Linked DNA regions of Homo sapiens. The protein of the gene in region 3 purifies or fractionates together with the protein of the main gene of each other region. This does not show direct contact. Each region holds a gene or a part of one and is shown on either strand. Other genes may lie near its edges.

Region 1 (7,313 bases), on a different chromosome or scaffold from region 3:
TGAAGATGAAGATAAAAGTGGGTCCTTACTCTGACGAGGCGTTTTCATCGCCCCTCTTGGCATGGTGCCATGATAGCGGTCGTGTTGTGCGTGAAGCCTGAGCTCTGCCGAATGGAAGGGCTGTCTGCAAGTGCGGTGCGGAAGACCGCGGGCCGTCGGGTGGGCTGGATCTGCCTGGGGCTCTGCCTTCCCCTCCTGTGTGTGTGGGCAGCACAGGAGGCTCTGTCGTCTGACCCCTCCTCCGCTTCTCACCCCTCGCTCACGTAGGGAAGCAGTGGGACTTGCAGTTCCCTGAAGAAGCAGAAGCTGAGGGCAGAGAGCGACTTTGTGAAGTTTGACACCCCCTTCTTACCAAAGCCCCTGTTCTTCAGAAGAGCCAAGAGCAGCACTGCCACCCACCCTCCAGGCCCTGCCGTCCAGGTACGCACCCTCCCCAGAGTGGCACAGCACATTTCACCACAAGGGCACAGATGGGCTTGAGCTGACAGTGCTTCCCATGCCGGGCCTGGAGCCCCACTGTGGCCCTCTGAGCCTGTCCACAGTGGACAGGTTCCACGGCCAGGGTAGCATAAGGTCTGAGTGGTCTGGGACCCACCCTGAGGGATCACAGTCAGGAAGGGGACTTTGAGGGGCGGTTGATCCACACATTCTGCCTCCCAGGGCTTCCGGCTCAGGGTTTGCAGAAACCAGTTTTCTCTCGTGAAATGTCACAGTGTTAAACACAAGTGGTGCAAGTCAGCAGTAGGAGGTCCACACAGAAATGTGGGTCAGAGCAGGAACTTGAGGCAGTGCTTCCTGATGCAGGCTGGATCCACTTCCAGGAATGTAAGTAGGAAAGAAGATAGTTGATTGTGGTGAACTGTTGGGATATGCAGATAGCTCAGAGTCCTTGTGCACAAAAAGCTGGAAACTGTGTGTCCATTGTCCATTGCAGTGAGATTCCATCATAGGCATCGTCTCATCGATGTCATAGAGTCTTCAAGTTAGAAGTTCAGAACTCTCCAGCAAAAGGCAGGGGAGTCTTGGCATTTTTCCTCACGGGTTCTCAGTGGTGAACTGTTTTTAGGACAGTTCAGGCATCCTCTCTGTTTGCCTTTCTTCCCTGGATCGTAGAACCCTGCAGCGGTAATGAGGCAGTGACCGCAGATGGGCCAAGAGTGTGGGCACCACTGACCCTGGGCTGGGGGGTTGCGTGTGTGGGACGCTGGGAAGGACAAAGGGCGGTCCTGGTGAAGCCCCGACAGGAGGGTCGGTTTCAGTCTTGGCCGCAGTCCCTTTGGCCTCTCCCTATATGTGCCACTCAGTAAGCAGCAGTGTGGGCGGCATACCCTCCAGGGCAGGTTCTCCAGAAAAATCTGACTAAGCGCCTCCACTGCACTTGCGTCACTCCTTTTGTTCCTGTTATTTCTCTTCTGCAGCTAAACAAGACACCATCCAGCTCCAAGAAAGTCACCTTTGGGCTGAACAGAAACATGACTGCCGGTAAGTGGGGTTTTGCCAGCGGCAAGCTTCTCTGGAGCACAGCTGCAGCTCCTGGCGCGGCTCGCAGCCTGGTTCCACAAGGCGGTCGGGGAAGAGGGGGGTCCTAGCTCCTCACTGCCCATTTCTTTATTTTTATTTTTTTTTTTTTTTTGAGACAGAGTCTCGCTGCTCTGTCACCCAGGCTGCAGTGCAGTGGCGAGATCTTGGCTCACTGCAACCTCCGCCCCCCCAGGTTCAAGCGATTCTCCTGCCTCAGGCTGCCGGGTAGCGGGTAGCTGGGATCACAGGTGCACGCCATCACATCCAGCTAATTTTTGTATTTTTAGTAAAGATGGAGTTTCACCATGTCAGCCAGGCTGGTCTCAAACTCCTGACCTCAGGTGATCTGCCTGCCTCGGCCTCCCAAAGATCTGGGATTACAAGCGTGAGCCACCGAGCCCGGCCCCTCACTGCCCATTTCTGAGTCAGAAGGAAGCACCTATGTGTCTGTCCCTCATCCTCAAAGGGCTGTGAGTGGGGTGCCAGTGGTGAGTGGGCAGCCAATTGCCTGGGACCTGTTAAGAGAAGCTACCTGGTGAGACGTGATCCAAAAAGCCGTTTTCCCAAGTGTCTTTCTAAATACTGAAAGCCGTCCCATAGAGAGGCCATTTGAGATCGTAGTGCTCCATCAGCTGTAGCTGTCTCTCTGCGAAACTTCGGAACCACTTGCTTCTTGGGCGACAGAGAAGGGTAACCCCTATCTTCCTACTTTTCATATTGGTGCCATCCATTCGAGTTGCTTTTACAAAGGAAACCAAAGTTTTAAAAAGTAGTATAGGCCAGGCGCGGTGGCTCATGCCTGTAATCCCAACACTTTGGGAGGCCAAGGTGGGCAGATCATGAGGTCAGGAGTTCGAGACCAGCCTGGCCAACATGGTAAAACCCCGTCTCTACTAAAAATACAAAAATTACCTGGGCGTAGTGGCAAGCACCTGTAGTCTCAGCTGCTCGAGAGGCTGAGGCAGGAGAATTGCTTGAACCCAGGAGATGGAGGTTGCAGTGAGCCAAGATCGTTTCACTGCACTCCAGCCTGGGTGACAGGCTGGGTGAGACTCCATCTCAAAAAAAAAAAAAAAGTATTATAACGAATTTAGGACCTGACTCTTGTTGGGAACTGCAAGTAATAGAGAGTATGTGTATGTGTGAGTGTGTGTACATGCACCAGTATATATGTGTGTGTGCGTGTGCATGCACACATGCGTGAGTGTGTATGTTTAGGGAGAAGAGACTCTGAGAGACTGAGGAGCTCACCCAGCCTTTACAACTGGAGAAAATGAACAGTACGAATCCTGCAGCTCCACATAGCACAGATTTGTCCCAGACACAAATGCCTGGTTCACTCATTGTCCAAAACACCCCCACCCCCAATGTTCACCCTTCCAGGAGCCACCCTACCAGCAGCTCCCCTTAGTCTGTGCAGGCAGCCCTGGGCCCTCCCTTGGGAGGGTGAGTTGAGGCATGGGATGTGGCCTCACTGCCCTCCTTTCCTCAGAAGGCTCTTGGGCCTGCTCTCTGCAGGGCCTTGAGATGGCCCTGCTTCGTCCTAGCAAGTGGGTGGGGTCGGCACCCAGGCAGGACGCTGTCTAAGGTGTTGAAGGGACAGCTGTCGGACCCACTTAATATGGGGCCTTGCTCTCATTTGGGACAGAATTCAAGAAGACAGACAAGAGTATCTTGGTCAGTCCCACGGGCCCTTCTCGAGTGGCCTTCGACCCTGAACAGAAGCCCCTCCACGGGGTGCTGAAGACCCCCACCAGCTCACCTGCCAGCTCACCCCTGGTGGCCAAGAAGCCCCTGACCACCACACCAAGGAGAAGGCCCAGGGCTATGGATTTCTTCTGAGGAGCAGCAGAGTCCCTTGTAAAAGACTGCTTTTGTACAGAATGCGCTATAAATTATACCTTTAAGAATGTGGGGCCTTTTTTATGATTTTGTAAGTTCCCATAAGTTGTGTGCACGAGGTTCTGAGAGTGCCCGCAGGCTGCTGCGTCCTGGCCCCTCTGTAGTGGCTGCGGGCGTCTTGGTTGAATCTTTTGCTACAAACCATGTTTGCGTTTGAGCTCTCCAGGATTTTACATTTTTGGGTAACCTCAGTGATTCCCATTGGTGTAGGAAATGAGACCCTCTCTGAAGCTGAGGAGAGCACGTTGATCTGAACTTTAAATCAATCAGTGCTGCTGGCACAATGAAAGGTGGAACTGCACTTCTGTTGAGCTCTCAGTTCTGCGGAATTTGGTACTCATTACCGTATTCGCCGTACTAAGTTGGTTTCTGTTAGTCTTAACAGTCTGTTTTCTTTTAAAAGCATGTAGGGCTTCATTGCCATGTTCTGTGGGTGTTTGGCAGGTTACCGATGGGGAAGATTCTTGTCACAGAATCAGCAATACCATAGTTTTTCTACATGTGCTCAGCTGGGGGTGTGGACAGGTAGGGGTGGGGAAAGAAGAGGCTCTGCGTTCTGGGGGCTTTTTCTTCTCCTCCCCCTACCCGGTTTCCCTCCCTGTTTTCCTACCTCTACGGCAAGCCCAAAGTGTCTTCCCGGGAGCCCAGCGCAGCCCCCGGCTCTTACCCAGGACCCCGCCCCGTGCTGAGCCTTCTGCTGAGGTCCTTGCGTGGAGCACACTCATTCCTCCAAGCCCTTGCGCTCCCGTTTCTCTCTCTCTCCGTCCACGTTCCAGCCGAGTCACTGCCTGACCGGCTCCATGGCAGCTCCCCATCTTCCCTAGAGGCTGCCTGCGCATCTGGAGCCTGCGCTCCGGCTCAGCGACCTTTCCTCTCAAATGCGGAAGCGTGCACTTACAGTTCAGACCGTTCTCCTGTAAGTTCATTACAAACACGGGCGGAAGGCACTCAGGCTTTCGTTGGAGAAACAGAAATAAGGCCTTCTTTTGAGCAGCGATTGCTGGATCATTGATCTGTTTGAGGAAGTGTCTGACCTGGGCCTGAGAGCTGGAGAAGGTGCAGATTCAAAGTGAGCGGCTCCTGAGGAGAGCCGCCAAGGCTGCTCGCCTTCTCCGTGGCTTCCGCAGCTACCGTCTGCACGGTGAGAGGGCACGGGCACACGGTTCGGGCTGGCGTGCAGCTCTCCCAGCCAGCCACGCTCTGCTCAGGCCTGGAAGTGAAAGCCGCCTCCTTCCCGTTATGCCCCCCATACAGGAGCCTCGGTTTTTCAGCAAAACGCGGCCAGTCCCCTTCTCCACTGCTGCCTCCCAGCAGAGGGCCCCAGGATCTCCAAGGTCCCAGCTATGGCTTTGGACAACGTGGCTTCGGCCCCTGGGGTTGCAGAGCTTGCATTGGGTTTACCTCGGTCTCATTCATTCATGGAGCCAAGGGTGGGGTTTCACCTGCGAACATCAGACTGACTTGCTGGCGTCAAGAGCAGTTGACTCACTGATGAAGGCCCTGGTGAGGAGAAAGCACTCTGTTCTTCGCCTACTCTGTAATCGTTTTGTCATAATGAGCCATGAAAAAAGTAATGAACTTGTGCTGTTAATCGTCACTGTAATGAGAAGTCTTACGTACAACATAGCTGTGGTGGCTTAATGGCTGCATTAGATAGGATCCTCACATCCCATTCAGAACCAAAACTGATACAGTGAAACAATTAAGGTGAGCAAATAGTTTTAACTTTTCTTTTTTTTTTTTAAGTTTCATTCTTCCTAGAATATTTTTCTAACAATTTTTATTTCAGCTTTAAAGATGGGTCATATAGCCAAACGGGCCATATAATCCAACATTGTTGAGATGTCTTAGGACATCTAAGGCAAAACTGGCACATTTGTTCTGCAGACTATTGCAGGAATGTTTTTTCCTAGCATTTCTATATTATCTGTCCATTCTGAGGAACCAGTGAATGTCCTATAAATGCACCTCCTGTCAAAACCATGCCTGAGAGGTCCCGGCTGGGAGTGACAGGGTGCTTCTTAGATTCTATTGGTCCTTCTCTCATTCTCCGAACTTACTCCTTTTTATGGGTAAGTCAACTAGGTTTACAGTCCCTTATTTTTAATGCCTAAGTTTTGACAGCAGGAAGAAAACAATTTTTTAAAAATTCTCATTACATAGACGCACAAGAATATGTCACATAAAGAAAATGTGTTTAGAATACTGGTTTTCTATTTACGCATGATATTTTCCTAAGTAAAATTGCCAAGTGGACTTGGAAGTCCAGAAAGGAAAATAATTTAAATTAATGCTGGTGATCTTAACAATATTTTGTAAAATGATGCTTCCCCCTTCTCCATGGTCTAGTCAATTTTGTACAATTAGGTATCTGACTTTACAAGTTTGTTATCCTTTCTAATTTTTACTGAACTGAAAGCACAAAGAAGACTACACAGAAAATCTGGAAACAGTTGCAGGTGTTGGGAGGAAGATGAAATCGAGCTGTCTTTTAACTTTTGTATGTGTTTTATCAGAATTTGCTGGACTATGCTGGCAAGGACTTTGTTTACGATCAAATTGTACTAGTGTCTGCAGGGTTTGTCAGTACTCGTCAAAGCCAAGTCCAATTAAAAAAAAAAGTCTTTGCCCTCCAATTTGTGTTTGATGTTGACTTTCAGTATGGGTAAAAATAGGCCTCTTTGGGAGCTGTTCCAGCACAGCAGAGTTGGGAAGATATTGGTGTTGGTCGGGTTTGAAAACAAGACTCTGGGTACCATTCTCTTCATCTCTCTGCTGCTGCCAGAGCCGGTGGGGGCGCTGCTCCGGGGATCGTCTCCAAGTGCTTGAAGCAGGCCTCACTGCGCACAAATGCCCTTGCTCACTATCGTGTCTAAAACATCACTCCACAGGCCTACGCTTGTGACGATGAGCGGAGAAGTGCCAGTGTCCCGGGTGGAGATCTCCCACTGCAGCCCAGAAACTGACTCCAGCTAGGGTGAGGCGGGCACAGGGAGGCTGCAGCTGGGTGAGGCGGGCACAGGGAGGCTGCAGCTAGGGTGAGGCGGGCACGGGTGGGCTGGTACCCAGCAGACAGCCTGTTCTGGGTGTTGGCAGTGGGTGTGGTCAGTGTTGGGCAAGCAGAGTACAGGCATGGCGGAGTCTTTATAGGCCCGTGTTCCCCGAAACAAATTTTTCACCTGTTCTTTGGATCCCAGACAAGTCCACAGACAGACACTGAACAAGCAAGCAAACAAAAACAAACCCTGGGCCAGGCGCGGCGGCTCACCCCAGTAATCTCAGCCCTTTGGGAGGCCTAGGCAGGCAAGTCGCTTGAGTCCAGGAGTTTGAGACCAGCCTGGGCGACATGGCAAAACCGTGTCTCTACAAAAAAAAAAAAAAAACAAATAATTAGCCAGGCGTGGTGGCGTGCATCTGTAGTCCCCGCTACTTGGGGGCCTGAGGCAGGAGGATTGCTTGAACCTGGGAGGTCACGGCTTCAGTGAGCTATGATCATACCACTGCACTCCAGCCTGGGTGACAAAATGAGACCCTGTCTTTAAAAAAAAAAAACAAGCCCTAGAGGAAGAAGGAAATCTGTTGTAATGTATTATTTAAAATGTCCAGTTTTCAACAAAAACAAGGTAAGACATTCAAAGAAACAAAAGAGTGTCACATACACAAGGAGCAGAGAGGCAATAGACTGGCTTTGAGGGCACCCAGGTGCTGATCTTAGCAGACAAACTTCAACCAGCCCTTATCAATATGTTCCCATCACTAAAAGAAACTATATTTAAAGAAATAAAAGATGGGGCCGGGCGCAGTGTCTCACGCCTGTAATCCCTGCACTTTGGGAGGCCAAGGCGGGTGGATCACCTGAGGTCAGGAGTTCGACACCAGCCTGGCCAACA
Region 2 (8,293 bases), on a different chromosome or scaffold from region 3:
ATGCATGGATGCCGCATTTAGTTTATGTCCAGTGTCCACTCTGTGCCTAGAACTGTCATACACTGTAAGGGAATCAAGAGAAGCATATAATGAAGATCCTGTTCTCAAGATGCTTACCATCTTACTGAGACACTATACATACAAATAGGAAAGAATTAAGAGGAAAATTCAACATAATGCAAAATATTCTAGAATAAACATAAATTTCTCTAAATTATGACAGGTGTTAAATATGTAGGCACTAAGTATTCGGATGATAGGAGAAATTACACAACTGTCCCTCCCCTATAACCAGTAACACTGAGCAGTTTTACTAACTGTGGTGTCAGATATGTGCTGATATATTCACATTCTCTCAAGTAATCTCCCAAATACCAATCCATACATTTTGAAGAGGTTTTCAGGGATTAGGAAAACAGTTTATGGTAGCGAAACAGAGTAAAGCAGGCCCAAAATATTGGCAATGGTACTTTTAAAATAAATATTGACTAAGAGATGACTATGTACCAGGTACTACACCAAGGATTGGGGATAATGAGATAACGCTTGCCTCAAAAACTCAGTCTAGTGGGGAGAAGTGACTGACAGACAGTTTGAGGCCAGGGTAATAGTAACCAGTATGACAGAGATATGCAAGGCCAGGCCCAGTGGTTCACTGTTATAATTCCAGCACTGTGGGAGGCCGAAGCAGGGGAATCATCTGAGCTCAGGAATTTGCGACCAGCCTGGGCAACATGACAAAACCCTGTCTCTACCAAAAACAAGAAATTAGTCAAGCATGGGCTGGGCGAGGTGGCTCACGCCTGTAATCCCAGCACTTTGGGAGGCCGAGGCAGGCGGATCACTTGAGGTCAAGAGATCGAGACCATCTTGGCAACATGGTGAAACCCCGTCTCCACTAAAAATACAAAAATCAGCTGGGCGTGGTGGTGCATGCCTGTAGTCCCAGCTACTCGGGAAGCTGAGGCAAGAGAATCGCTTGAACCCGGGAGGCGGAGGTTGCGTTGAGCCGAGATCATGCCACTGCACTCCAGCTTAACGACAGAGTGAGACTCCGTCTCAAAAAAAAAAAAAAAAAAAAGAAAGAAAGAAAGAAATTAGCCAGGCATGGTGGTGTGTAACTATAGGCCCAACTACTTGGGAGGCTGAGGTGGGAGGATTGCTTGAGCTTGGGGGGGGGGGGGGTGGCGGTTTGCAGTGACCCGAGATGGTGCCACTGCACTCCAGCCAAAGACAGAGCAAGACCACATCTAAAAAAAAAAAAAGAAAGGAAGAAAAGAAAAAAAAGAAAAGAGAAATACGCAAAGGGGAATGTGGAGGCAGAAAAGTTCTGTACTCACACAGAGTCTAACCAAGTTGGTGTGAACCCAGTGTTTTTCTAATTCAACTGCTGAACATCTACATGGCTTCCTGTGTTGACCACAAGGCATAGGGGACTCTGAACACAGGGTAAGAATCTAACTAGGAGTAAAATACTCTTCCAAAAAGCAAAGCAGATTATTTTCTCTGCAAGAAAATTCACATGATAGCACAAAGTATAATGCTAAGCACACAACAGGCATTTAATAAATGCTTGCTAAATTAATTCATGCAGACAGAGATTTCCTTGCATTCTGCTGTAATTCAGTCAGATGTAAAAGACAATTCTTAGAAGAAAAAGAACAAAACCAAGAAACTGCTAAACTCAGCTATGCATGCTGACAACATGTCCAGAAGAAAGTCTGTTGATGGCCCGGCACAGTGGCTCACGCCTGTAATCCTAGCACTTTGGGAGGCCGAGGTGGGCAGATCACTTGAGGTCAGGAGTTCGAGACCAGCCTGGCTAACATGGTGCAATCCCTTCTCTACTAAAAATACAAAAATTAGCCAGGCGTGGTGGCGCACGCCTATAGTCCCAGCTATTCAGGGGGCTGAGGCAGGAGAACTGCTTGAGCCCAGGAGGAGGAGGTTGCAGTGAGTCAAGATTGCACCGCTGCACTACAGCCTGGGCAACAGAGTGAGACTTCGTCTCAAAACAAACAAACAAAATCTGGCACCACAGCCTGAGGGAAATGCTTGATCTGACCCAAGATCAGAATGAAAGCTCCAAAATGGTCAGGGCCACGTCTCACCTCCTTGATGCGCACCCCTTTCTCTCCACTAGTAGCACTCAGCAGCAGCTTTCTGAGCTGTTTGTCATCTACAGCCTTTGGGAGATTGTGCAGGCAGAGCCTGGTTCGGGAGACAAAGATATTCTGGTCCTTGAGTTTCTGATGCTTCAGCAGCTCAAACTGAAAGAACAACCAATGGTTAACAGTACAACCCACTCTTTTTAAGAGGTAGGCTCATAATTCTCCAAAAGGAAAGAATTATGATCCTCATCCCATAACCACACATATAGAAAACGGATGGAAACTGCCCACACCGCAGCTTTACAATGCCTAGTATAGGGAAAGAAAAGTCCAAGGGAACAAGATGGTGGGTGGGTAATAGTAAAATCATAGGCTCTGGAGACCCATCCCTAACTGGAGAAATTACATAAAATTTTAAAGCCACAATTTTTCATCTATAAAACGAAACAGTAGATCAAGGTCTCTGAGCACTGAGGTGAGGCCAAAATGAGATAATATAAGGCTGGGCAGGGTGGCTCATGCCTGTAATCCGAGCACTTTGGGAGGCCAGGGCAGGCAGATCACCCGAGGTCAGGAGTTCAAGATCAGCCTGGCCAACATGGTGAAACCCTGTCTCTACTAAAAATACAAAAATTAGCCAGGCATAGTAGTGCATGCCTGTAATCCCAGCTACTCGGGAGGCTGAAGCAGGAGAATCGCTTGAACCTGGGAGCCGGAGGTTGTGGTGAGCCAGGATCGTGCCATTGCACTCCAGCCTGGGCAGCAAGAGTGAAATTCGGTCAAAAAAAAAAAAAAATTCCCTAGCTCAAAATGTAGCTCAGAACAAACAACAAATAATACTGTGATTAATATCTATGCCCAGTCCTCATCTACCCACCAGCTCAACTGATTATCTAATCCTTCCAAAAGGAAATGGAAGTTATTCAAAGAATACTTGACAGAATGCTGTGTTGTCTCAACTCTGCCACCCTGAGGCAAAGGAGTATCAATGACCACAGAACCATATTTTGCTCTTAGAGCAATACCCTCAACTATGCTGCCACAAAACCCCAGTTCCTGCGTGATCTGTGTCTAAAATGAAATGAAAGATGACATTCTTCTCCCAATTAGTTTTTTTTAAACCAAGTTGGTAGAAAAAAGTTTTCAATTAAAAGTTTTTCTTTTGTCAAGTCTTCTCAGTCCTGCTGCTTCTTGTTTGGTAAAAGTACCAACAGATCACAAAATAAACAAATCCCTTGGAAAACGACTATTAAAGGAACATCTGAAAAGGCTATCATGTTTAAGTTCAACAGACTATTTTTCTGTCAGGAAAAGCTGTGCCTGCTGTGAATTTATAATGCATACCTATCATTGAATGAGCTTTTTGCTAACAAAATTAGTTTTAAATTAAATATGTCATTATTGCACTGTGATCAGACAAGGGTATATAGTGCCCTTATAAAATTGAGGCTTTAAAATTTTCTGTAATTTCTCCAGTTAAGGATGGGTCTCCAGAGCCTATGATTTCTAGGTGTTCACTACCACAAAAGTTGAAAACACTAGTGCAGAATCTGTGCCCACTGAAAAAAAGACGCACTGCCTCCTGCTGTCATTACACTCTCACCCCTGTTCCTCATCTGCATGTTAAGGTTCCATAGCTAATTCTGTTCACAGTTATGCATCTTTACCCTTCTAGGCTGGCTTGGCTTTTTGAAAGTAAGTTATATGGGAAAAAGTAAAAATTACTGGGAACATTACCAAGCAGCAAAGGAATATGAGTTATCGGTTAACATCGGAAACATCCATAAAATGGAGTTTTTCTAAAATGATTTTATAATCTGGAGATTATAACTCCTCCCAACTGACAGCTACCCCTTTCAAGAGCCATATCTTCTCCCTTCTCTAATAACTCCAGCTCATTCTGATCTTCCTCTTTTACATTATTCTGTGTTTATACTGACACCTAATTACATGTAGCAATAGCCTCTGACTGTCTACTGCATGATGTAGCAGCATGTGTTCAGCAAACATTTACTGCCAAGCACTAGGGAAACAAATAATAAGACACAGTTCTTTTATACCAGCATACAAAACAGATAGAATACTATGTATGATGTTGGGTTACTTGCTATTTCACCTATGTGCTTTTCTCCCTAACAGGGCAATAAGTATGGTCTGTGACCATACTGGGCTCTTTGATGAGCACATCTAGCATTCGATAACTATTTTTGATTGATTTATAGGCCACGCAGAACGTGAAGGTCAATGCCTAATCTACTCACCCGTTCTCTTTTGGCCATATCAGCAGCACTCACACCCTCTGCAGCCTTCGTCCCAGCACGAATCACTGCAGAAAGAGGGAAAAAGGCCAAGACATCAACAAGGGAATTTTCACTGAGCAACAAGAGGAATGTGATTTGAATGATGCAAACTCTTTGTACAGGGCCCAGAGGACTATCTTGGCCAGGACACGGTGGCATTTGGTTAGGTCCAGAAATAGGCTACAGGGCTAAGTTCTGGGCTCAGAGCTGCTCTCAAGGACTAAAACTCTAAACATTTTGTGATTTTATTCCTCTTCTCCTTCTCTCCCCTCAAAGAATCTTCACGTACATGCCCAAAGTCAGAAAGAAAGGCCTAGAAGAAGTATGGAACATAAGTACATTTTGGGCATTTAGAATGCACAATGTTCCACCTATAATCTGCCCTTGGAACTTAACTTTGCTGTTCCTTATATACTTGAGGTCCATTACTAAACAGTGAGATAAGCCAGCCGAAAACAGTTATGTTGCCATAGAAGGCTGGTGTCGAAGGCTAAAGGACATTACTAGTACAGGCTGTGAAGCTATGGAGGAGGTGAGCTGATAAATGCTGTGTGACCTAGAAGAATTTTTTTAAAAATTTAAAGCTAATTTTTTTGTCTTTCTGACACTAAAGGAAAGTATTGGGTGCACATTTTAAATCCATGAATAATCCAAAAGAGTAATTTTAGTCATAATGAAAACCTCTTATTAGAAATGATGACAAGAAGCAAAGGTATTTTGAGTTCTTCCTCCCCCTTTGCCTTGCCAATCCTCTATTGAAAAAGACTAAAGGCAACCAGGCAGAAAAGATAATGGGACAGTTAATCCACAAAAACGAGTGAAGGTTTACTAATAGAGAGCCACATTTATTAAAGTGGAATGATCATATAACACTGTTAAAGAGAACATTTGGGTTTTTAATTTGAAACATGCTTCCAGGCATACTATTGCTTGATCAATGATTATGGCACAGGGCCAGGTACTTAGAAGTGTGGGTTACATCTCCCTACTCACAGCCTTCTCGGGCCAGATAGAGATTCCGGGTGCCAGTCGGCTTCTTCACCTTCGTCGTCTGAAGCTTTGCAGCCTCATCACGGGTCACCGCCAAGTCAACCTTGAGCTGCCGGCCATCCAGTTTAAGCCCACCAGCCTGTAACAGATCACAACCCTTTCTTAAAACACATAATGGCCGGGCACAGTGGCTCACACCTGTAAACCGAGCACTTTGGGAGGCTGAGGCAGGTGGATCACCTGAGGTCAGGAGTTCAAGGCCAGCCTGGCCAACATGGTGAAACCTCGTCTCTACTAAAAATACAAAAATTAGCCGGGCATGGTGGTGTGCGCCTGTAATCCTACTCAGGAGGCTGAGGCAGGAGAATGGCATGAACCTGGGAGACGGAGCTTGCAGTGAGCGGACATCGCGCAACTACACTCCAGCCTGGGAGACAGAGCGAGACTCCACCTCAAAAAAAATAAAATAAAATAAAAAAATAACAAAACAAAACAACACATAATGAGTAGAAACTAGAAACTAAGCACCTGACAAGAACACCACAGAAAGGGATACAGCAAACATCAATTACGCTATGGAAGCCAAGCCCTACGACGTTTCAGCTCAGCTAGCTACAAATGGATCACTGGGCCTCACAATATTTAGTATAGCTGTGCAAAAGGCCACATGTGTATTTCAGGCAGTCAGCAGTAAAGAATTTATTTTCTGGGAGTTGATTAGTCCCAAAGTAGACCCAAACTGAGGAAAATTATCTGTAACCAGGCAAATGTCTAGTATTGTAAAGTAAGCTAGTGAAATAGTAGAGTACTTACTCAAGAGGACTTAAGAAATAACAGCAATATTAGATAACATTATACTCGACTATAGAACAAATGGAGTAATTCTCCATCACCCACACACATTCTCTCTCAAACATCTACTCTACTTCACAGACGACCTTAATACCTCATCCTAGTCTTTCATGTTATCAGTCTAGGATAGAGGCTGACACAGACAGCAAGCAACAAATATCAGATACGTTATTATCCCCTTTTCCTCACCTATGAAGTAGAGATCATAATTCTGCCTACCTCAAAGGGCTGATGTAATGATTAAGATAATGCATGTAAAGTTCAGTGCCTAACACAAAGTGCTAAATAAGTGTTAGTTTTATTATTACTGACAAGAAAAATAATAATAAAGCTTTGTATAAATACCAGATGTTGCCCCTAAGAGCCAAACTGCCTCCTGTGTTATAAGGTAAAGGAAATATCTTCCTTACCTCATTCTCTGGAGAAGCAGCTAGAAGGCATTTCTGAGCTGCTTCTTGAGTCATGAACTGGGCAAATGCACAACCTGCACAAGGAGACACAATTCAGTGAGATCCCAAACTCCCACAGATAAACCAAAGACAACATTGCAAATGGCAACAGCCTGACACAGAGTGGAAGGGATAGGTGGCATCCATTTATTAAGTACAGCCATGTAGCCGGGTGCAGTGGCTCACACCTGTAATCCCGGCACTTTGGGAGGCCGATGCGGGCAGATCATGAGGTCAAGAGATCAAGACCATCCTGGCCAACACAGTGAAACCCCGTCGCTACTAAAAATACAAAAAATTAGCCAGGCGTGGTGGCGGGCACCTGTAGTCCCAGTTACTTGGGAGGCTGAGGCAGGAGAATGGCGTAAACCTGGGAGGCGGAGTTGCAGCGAGCCAAGATAGTGCCACTGCACTCCAGCCTGGGCAACAGAGCAAGACTCCGTCTCAAAAAAAAAAAAAAAAAAAAGTACAGCCATGTACTTGCATAAGGACGTTTTGGTCAGTGACAGACTGCATATACAACAGTGGTCCCAGAAGATTACAATGGATCTGCCCTATACAGTTGTACCATTTTTTATCTTTTATACTGCATTTTACTATACCTTTTCTATGTTTAGAAATACTTAGATACACATATACTTACCATTATGTTACAACTGCCTACAACATTCAGTATAACAACATGCTGTGCTGTACAGGTTTGTAGCCTAGGAGCACATATGACCTATGTGTGTAGTAGGCCATACCACCTAGGTTTGTATAAGTACACTATGACATTCACACAATGACAAAATCACCAAATAATGAACTTTGCAGAATGTATCCCCATCATTAAGTGACGCATATTGCACTATGACACAGGCACTATGTTAGGTACCAAATAATCAAGACAAAGATACCACTGCTCTTAATGAAATTTTATTATTACTTCCTTCATCTGTTCTAATTCTTCTTAGAACTTTAGTCTCATGATCTCTCTTAATAAGAAATATCCATGTGAAGGCTGGGTGTGGTGGCTTACACTTGTAATCCCAGCTCTTTAGGAGACCAAGGCAGGAAGATCGCTTAAGCCCAAGAGTTAGAGCCTAAGCAACATGACAAAACCCTGTCTCTACGAAAGAAAAAAAAAAATTGGCTGGGTGTGGTGGTGCATGCCTATAGTCCCAGCTACCGAGAAAGCTGAGGTGGGAGGATGACCTGACCTCGGGAGGTCAAGGCTGCAGTAAGCCATGATCACTGCACTACAGCCAGGGTGACAGAGCGAGACCTTGTCTCAAAAAAAAGAAAGAAAAGAAAAGAAAAGAAATATCCACATGAAATGGTAGAGAAATTCCAGCCTAACACTTAATTCAGCATCACTTATGAAGTACCTATTAGAGGACTAAAAAATAAAGCAGGAACCACTTAACCCTGAACTTAATTACAGATCTCACTGTCACACAGTCACTTGGGAGGCATCAGATATGGGCAGATCTGCTTCTCAGAGTAAAAGTCTCTGTCCTCTACTATATGAATATAGCAGGGAACCAGAAAGCCAGGAGCTCAATTCTTGGCTCATACTCTAGAATCTCCATAAGGCATGCCTTTCCTT
Region 3 (8,307 bases):
GTCATATGATCTCTGTTGCCATAAACACAACCAAATAGGCATTGCTATGACCCAGTAAAACTTTATTTACAAAAACAGGTAGAAGGAGGGATAGTTTGCTGACCCCTATCTTATCCTACCTTGATATCTCTGCTTATACAAATCTCAATTATAATGTCCATTCTTTCATCCGAGCTTACTGAAATTCCATCATCTTCAAAAAACATTCCTTCCTTTTCCTCCTGCCATTCTTAGCACTTGGAAATTAATGTTCCATTTATTCAGAAGTTTCCTACTTTATATACTTTGTAACTAATATTCCTTTCAAAGGGAGGAATTTATGGAAGGAAAATGGGAAGAATCAAGCAGGAAAAAAGGTAACTTAAAAAGAAGAGAAAATTTCTAGAATTCTAAGGAGAGTCTTTTCTGAGAGAGGTTTTCTTCAAGGTTAGTGAAATTAAAAATATATTCCTCAATATTTTGAGAAAAGTTGAAATGGACTCCCCGCTTCTGCCAATAAAATGTTTCCATTAGCTACCAGGCTAATCTCTAACATACTGGTGAGTACAGGGAATTCTCATGTCATGTGCACACAATAGTAATAGAAAGAGGAACAATAACCGTCTGTGAAAAACTAAATGGCTGAAGTTCAAAGATAATAAATACCTACCAGGCTCAGCATCATTCACCATTTTTCTCTTTTTCTTCTTTTTCTTTTTTGATTCTGAATTGGAAGACTGCATTGCTGCTTCTCCATTGGTTAATACAGTGGATTTCTGGGGAGACTTTGTAACTTTTATATTTCCCACTGCTTCTTGAGACATGCCTCCATTTTGAGTTTCTGATAAGCCCACATTCATGGGCTTTTGTTTTGATTTTTTAACCTTTCTACTTCCCATTGTTTCTTCAGATACATCTCCATTTTGAGTTTCCGATAGGGTCAGATTTGAGGCCCCTGTTTAAATAAACAGAACATATACTGTGACAAAGAAGGAGAAGTTTACTTAGAAACACTGAAATCCCAAATGAGAACTTCCATGGCTTCCTGACACAAATTATTTAGATTTTCTTCTCTTTCATGTAATTAAAACAACTTATAGTTTTATGGTGTTCCCTTATAGGGAAAGTAAGTTATCTTAAAGAAAAAATACTGGAAAAGGGAAAGCTATATTGATTTCTTAACTGCAAAAGACCGTACATCTGACTTTAAGGAGTCTAGGACAGGAAAACTTCAATGAGGTCAAATATTTAAACAGATGAGGTCAGATAATGGCAGTTACAGAATAAACATAAGTATTTGATAAACATATGATTAACTGATATATTGAAAAAGACATTTACAACTCATTCACACAAGTACTATTTTTCATACCACTTCAAAACATTCAACCCCAACTCTTCTAGACTGCAGTGAGTTGAAAATTCAGTTGATAAGACCACTTATTTGCTCCAATATTTATCATATGCAAATACAGTAATGCGTGCACAATGACATTTCTGTGAATTAAGGACAACATATACAGTGGCTCCATAAGATTATAACGGAGCTAAAAAATTCCTATCACCTAGTGCCATCAGTAACTGCAATGTCGTAGTGCAACATATTACTCATGTTTGTAGTGATGCTAGTATAAACAAATCTACTGTAATGCCAGTCGTATAAAGTACAGCACACATAATTATGTACAATACATAATACGTGATAATAAACTATGTTACTTGTTTATGTGTTTACTATACTTTTGATCATCATTTTAGAGTTTACTCCTTTTACTTATTAAAAAAAAATGAGTCGACTGTAAAAGAGCCTCAGGGAGAGAGGTATTTTAGAAGGCACTGTTATCATAGGAGATGACAGCTCCATGCCTATTGTTGCCCCTGAAGATCTTCCAGTGGGACAAGATGTGGAAGCGGAAGACAGTGAAACTGAATGTGTCTGTGTCTTTACATTTTTAACAAAAAGCTTAAAAAGAAAAAAAAATAAAATAAAAATCACATAGAATAAGGACAAAAGGAAACTTTTTGTACAGCTGTATGTACAATGTGCTTGTGTTGTAAGCTAAGTGTTATTAAAGTCAAAAGGTTAAAATTTAACAAGTTTATAATGTAAAAGTTACAGCAGGCTAAGGTTAATTTAAGAATAAAAGTATTAAAAAACTCAACAGTGTAGCCCAAGTGTACAGTGTTTATAAAGTCTATAGTGTACAGTAATGTTCTAGGCCTTCACATTCACTCACCGCTCACTGACTCGCTCAGGGTAACTTCCAGTCCTGCAAACTCCATTCATGGTAAGTACTGTATACAGAGGTACCATTTTCTAAATCTCTCATGTCATAGTCTTTTTACTGTACCTTTTCTATGTTTAGATATATTTAGCCATACATACACTTACCATTGTGTTACAATTCTCTGAGTATAGTACAGTAACATGCTGTACAGGATGACAGCTTACGAGCAACAGGCTATATCATGTAGCCTGGGTGTGTAGTAGATTTAGGTTTGTGTAACTAGATAAAGTTCGCAAAACGACAAAAGCCCCTAATGACACATTTCTCACAATGTATCCCCCCTCCTGTTATGCGATGCATGACTGTACCTGAGAATGTCCTTACCAAAGGTTCCCTGTTTGTTTACTGAAAAAGATAAAACACCATCTTTTGTTCAAATTTACTTACATATGCGCTGAAAAGTAGTAATGCTGTAGTATTATTCTATAGGAATTAGAAATACAAGAGTATTTCAAAACATATTCCTAAAATTCACAAACCTATTGCCTCCTGCAGAATTTTTTTTCAATTAATGTCTGTTGAAAACCAACTGGGGCAAGGCACTGTGCCTCCAAACTTTCCCTCGGGGAGTTTGTATCTTAACCTGGACAACAGGTTAACACAATTACTTCAAGATCTGTGGCCCCACTGTCAGGACACTGGGACTGCAAATGAGGTAGGTAAGAAAGGTGACATTCAGATAAAATCCTTTTCATTTAGGTCACTGTGCGGGACACAAATACGTAGAAGCTCTGGTGAGAAAGTGCTACGAGAACGTGTGGAAGTGGGTAGAGGAAGGCAATAGTATCAAAGAAGCTCTGTGGAAACAGCCAGACGGGCTTTTGGGGAAAGAAATACGGGAATTAAATAGATGTGAAAAGTGGGTGGAAATGAGACGTTTCATGCAGCATAACCGGAAATGAGGGATGAGGTGAGGTGCGACTTGCAGGTGGTGAGGGAACCAAAAGCTAAGGTGGAAATGCAAAAGGCAGGGTTAGTCGTAAGCCTAGAAGTGAACGGGGAGTCCTCCCGCTCTAACGTTGTAAGAAGACACTGATTGCTCAGAAAGGTCAGGAGCAGCGCTGGAGCCACGCGACGAGTGGGCAGCAGCGCGGGTCCCGAGTGGAAGCTGCCTTTTCACTCTCCCCAATCACACACGCTGCAGGGGAAGCTGCCTCCGTCACACAGAGCAGCTGGGCCCCCGGCCGCCCGAACGCGCCAGGGCTCGCGCGTGGGTCTTCTGAGCCACCGCGAGTCAACGCATCTCACCCTGAAACTTTAGGTTCCGCTGCCGCAATTTGAGGTTCCGCTTCTCGATCTTCTTACGCAGGAGTTTCATCGGCAGGTGTGACATTCTGCCCAACAAGTGCCTAGAATAAGGCGCCACACAGTACAGCTACTCAGTTCTCAGGCTGACGTTACTTCCCTTCCGGCCGCACGTGCGCAGCTCGGCCAACAGGAAACGCGTCACAGGAACGCTGGCACCCGGCGGAACGAAAATGCTCCAGAGCGGAAATGCTTCCAGACGCGCGCACCGTGATATCTTTGGCGACCAAAATCTTTGCAGCGCCCCCTGGAGAAGTGGAAGCGAGACGCTGCACTGGCTTCACACTGTGCTAAAGCTAACTTGAGCTCCCCCTAGAGGAAGACTGAAGAAAGAACGTGGAGGGGAAGGAGGCCTTAGGGAGTCCGCATTTTTATGTTCCTATCCTCTGTGGGTGCAGAACTAGAGTTGGCCCTCCCTGTACCTGAATTCCCTGTCTGTGGATTCAACCAACTCCCCCATTGAAAACATTAAAAAAAAAACAATTAAAAATAATACAGTGTGATAACTACTTTCATAGCATTTAGGTTGTATAAGGTATTATAAGTCATTTAGAAATGATTTAAAGTATACAGGATGTTGTGTGTAAAATAAATGCAAATATTACACTATTGTATATAAGGGTTTTGAGTATCCTAAGATATTGGTACCCATAGAGGGTCCTGGACTCAATCCCTTGTGGATACTGAGGGACAACTGTATTTGGGAAACTGAATAGAACTAAATTATATATATGCATTTCCAAACTTGTTTGGCCACTCTCCTCAGAAATACAATTTCTGTGTCACTTGGTACACATACACACATAAATATAACATTTCTCAAAATAATATTCTTGCTTTTCACTCTTTTTCCTTCAATTCCATTCATTCCATCCTAAATTATTCTTTTTAGCTTACTAAAAATACTGATTCCTATGAATTTAAATTAACTTTACTACATTAATAATAGGTTGACTGCAGTTTGAAAAAGAGGTTTATATATTCCTTAAGTATACCCAAGGACCCTTCAGCAGTCCAGGACAGAAATTGCAATGTGGCTAGCTAATAGTCATCTCTTTTTTGGGATGGGGAGGAAGACAGGGGTATGCATATAGTATTTAATTTTTAAAAAAATTGTTATCAACATTAAAATACTTGGAGATTTCCATAAAAATTCATATTTGTCTTTAAAAATTGGCCCAATGCCCTCAAATTCCCCTTAACAGTAATCAATTTGAGCTGAACAACTGGAAGAGTCCATGAAACCTGGATTAATTTGTTTACTTGGAGGGGCAGAACATGAGACCCTGGAGATTAGACCTGATCATAGTGAGGAACAGAGAGGGAGAAAACTTGGGAGGGAGTTTAAACAGAATGTGAAGGAATTGACTTCGAAATCACATTGGATTGGACTGGAAAACTAAGACAAACAAATAATAATGTGCTTAGATTAATTTGTTAATGATCAGGCAGGCTGAAGAATGATTCAGAAATGTAAGAGCGCACACACACACGCAAACATTTATCTCAGTGTAAATATATATGCCAGTTTAAATTTATGCATATATCAGTATATATATGCATATACACATATGTATCTATTTCTATAGCTCTATGTACATACATATATATTTACCTGATTACATGTGTGAGTTTTGGGTCTGTGACTTTGAAATAGATACAACTGAAGTATATATAGAAAGTGCTCAAAATTTGTTATTTCTTTTATGTTGTAACTTAAATTTGTGGGGCTATGTTTTGGTAGTAGTAATGGAAAGGTACTCCCTTTTTTCTAGAGTGTGACTTTTTCTAGCTAGTAGTGAAGATTGGCAGTCATTTCCTCAAAACCAAAAAAACCCACATTTACGAGGTGTTTAAGACATTTAGATCAGAGAAGCCGATCCTTTCAGGTGCATGGAAATGCTTAACGTTAGGGATTGATAACCTTTTAAGAAACATAGATAAAGCTACTGATGCCAATTCTTCTGGATTTTTAGAAGAAGAATGAGAAATTATAACTTCAAATCAACTCTCAAAATTAGGGTTGAGAGTTATTTTTAACAGAGTGAATTTCCAAGGCCACATCATCAGTTACTCTAGCAAAGAAAACAATGTCATTGGGTTAGCTACTCAAAAATTACCTGTGAGGATGAGGTAACAATCACGTGCTTCTGAAAAGCCTGTTGTTCTTCACAGCTGGAGCCTATCCCAGTATCTATTCAGAATGCGTTTCAGTCTTTAAAACTTCTTGCTTGGGCTCTCCATCACAGAGGTCTCTCTCTTCAGAATATGGTCATTCGCCATAAAACAATCGCATAATATAGTCATTATGCAACTATTTTTTGAGCATTTTTGTGCTAAGAGTGTGTGGTAGGCATGTGCCAAATCCTGGGTATAAAATGGTGGACAAGATAGACCTGGCTCGCCTAGGTGGAGCTTACAGAGCTTACAAGGAAGACAGAAAATTAAACGATTATGGTAAACTATGATGAATGCAGTGAAAAGGAAGCACATCACAGGAGCAACATCCTAGCCTTGGGAAGGGGTCTGGGGATGGAGTCTGTCATTCAATATTCATTATGCATAGGGACTGAGCCAGCAGCAGGCAGAAGCAGGAAGGGAGTTGCTGTCTTTTTTTTGTTGGTTTGTTTGTGTGTTTTGAGACAGAGTTTTGCTCTTGTTGCCCAGGCTGGAGTTCAATGGCGCGAACTTGGCTTACCGCAACCTCCGCCTCTGGGTTCAAGTGATTCTCCTGCCTCAGCCTCCCAAGTAGCTGGGATTACAAGCATGCACCACTATACCCAGATAATTTTGCATTTTTAGTAGAGACAGGGTTTCTCCATGTTATTCACGCTGGTCTCGAACTCCTGACCTCAGGTGATCCATCCGCCTCAGCCTCCTAAAGTGCTGAGATTACAGGCATGAGCCACCGCACCTGGCCAGGAGTTTCTGTCTTTTACCTCCTGACTAAAAATAATTAAGTTTAACATAGAACAGGTCTTATTCATGCTGTTTTGTTTTTCAGTTTTCACTTGAGATCCTTAAACCTGAGACAAGTGTTTGTAAAATAAAACGCAGATTTGTGTAGTTTGTCATTCAAATTAAAAACGTCCCACTTCACTGGGAAAAGAAATCAATCTATTTCACCAACATCATAGAATTGTGAGCCAGAAATAACTGACTCATCCTCTCGGATCACTGCATTAGGACTCTTGAAGTGATTTTCTAGGAACTTTCAAATGCTATTTTCTATAAGGTTAACCACTCTGTTGTGTATTGGAACTTAAAAAGTGCTATGTTATTGTAAATAAGCATGATGTTGCCTCCTTCACATTACCTGACTTTCCTGGACCAGCATCTGGTTCTGTGTATTTCTACATTGTAGAAAGCAGATGGCTGGTACTTAAGAAAGGTTTTCTTCAGTGAACTGATGGACATAAGAGTGAGAGATTATTTTAAAGAGCATCACCACAATTCATGACAAGTCATTATTGCAGTGGTCCTAGGAGCTGGAGAGGATACAGAAACATATAACAGAAACTTTTCTGTCAAGAAGTTTATTCATTTATTAATTTAAAAAAATACCATCTATCCATTCCAGGTACTGTTTTAGGCCTCAGGGATCAGCAGTAAACAAGACAGGAAAAGTCCTCATTTCCAGGGAGATTACAGCCTGGATAAGAGACGACAGGTATAAGTAAACCTTGTGATTGAACAAGATACCTTTGCATGAAGCTAAATGCTGGGAAGACATTACAACCAGACAATGCAATATAATAAAGAGGGATGGGTGGGAGGGCAGGACAGCATGCTATTCAGGTGGGAGGTATTTTTTGAGGAGGCAAAGATCTAAGGTCAGAGAAAAGGCTGTCAAAGACAAGTCTTAATATGCTATTAAGTAACAATTCAAGGGATCAAGAGCAGATTTGTAGTCAGGAGCATAAGAGGAGATTTGCAGGGGGAAAGAGTCTAGGGGCTGGGTCAGGCTTGAGTGAATAAGGGGATAGTGACAATGTTAAAATGAACTGCATTTGACTTCCTTCCCTTCGAGTCATAGTCTGACCACTGATGATTGAATCACAGACTGAGTCTTGCTTGTACAGTATGTTGCGGAAATAAGAGGATGGAAATGAATTTATTTTTAATACACTTCTTATGTGGAATAATTTTAGACTTGCAAAAAAGTTGCAAAAACAGTGCCCTTTACCCAGTTTTCCCTAACGTTAACAACTTATGTAGCCGTGATACATTTATCAAAATAAAGACATTAACGTTAGTGAATCACTATTAACTAAATTAGACTTTATTCAGATTTCACTAGTTTTTCCACTAATGTCCTTTTTCTTTTTTTTCTCTTCTTCTTTTTCTTTATTTCTCCTAAAAAAAAAGGGATACACATGCAGAACGTGCAGGTTTGTAACATAGGTATATGTGTGCCATGGTGGTTTGCTGTACCTATTGACCCATCCTCTAAGTTCCCTCCCTTCACCCTCAACCCCCCAACAGACCCTGGTGTGTGTTGTACCCCTCTCTGTATCCATGAGTTCTCAATGTTCAACTCCCACTTATGAATGAGAACATGTGATGTTCAGTTTTCTGTTCCTGTGTTAGTTTGCTGAGGATGATAGCTTCCAGCTTGATCTGTGTCCCTGCAAAGGACATGACCTCATTCCTTTTTATGGCTACATAATATTCCATGGTGTATATGTTCCACATTTTCTTTATTCAGTCTATTATTGATGGGTATTTGGGTTGG

The links.
Region 1: the proteins of DDX18 (region 3) and RRP1B purify together in Homo sapiens (affinity purification with mass spectrometry; 2 studies listed by BioGRID and IntAct, with this or other methods). This does not show direct contact.
Region 2: the proteins of DDX18 (region 3) and RBM28 purify together in Homo sapiens (affinity purification with mass spectrometry; 2 studies listed by BioGRID, with this or other methods). This does not show direct contact.

The regions. Positions count from the first base shown.
Region 1 is NC_000021.9:43,690,021-43,697,333, forward strand, and holds the end of RRP1B (ribosomal RNA processing protein 1 homolog B), read left to right. Parts: intron 1-267; coding exon 268-420; intron 421-1,418; coding exon 1,419-1,482; intron 1,483-3,169; coding exon 3,170-3,363; 3' UTR 3,364-6,059; downstream 6,060-7,313. UniProt on the Homo sapiens protein: Positively regulates DNA damage-induced apoptosis by acting as a transcriptional coactivator of proapoptotic target genes of the transcriptional activator E2F1.
Region 2 is NC_000007.14:128,319,155-128,327,447, forward strand, and holds part of RBM28 (RNA-binding protein 28), read right to left. Parts: intron 6,738-8,293; coding exon 6,664-6,737; intron 5,541-6,663; coding exon 5,405-5,540; intron 4,438-5,404; coding exon 4,373-4,437; intron 2,271-4,372; coding exon 2,112-2,270; intron 1-2,111. UniProt on the Homo sapiens protein: Nucleolar component of the spliceosomal ribonucleoprotein complexes.
Region 3 is NC_000002.12:117,810,071-117,818,377, reverse strand, and holds the start of DDX18 (ATP-dependent RNA helicase DDX18), read right to left. Parts: upstream 3,688-8,307; 5' UTR 3,601-3,687; coding exon 3,516-3,600; intron 935-3,515; coding exon 650-934; intron 1-649. UniProt on the Homo sapiens protein: ATP-dependent RNA helicase that plays a role in the regulation of R-loop homeostasis in both endogenous R-loop-prone regions and at sites of DNA damage.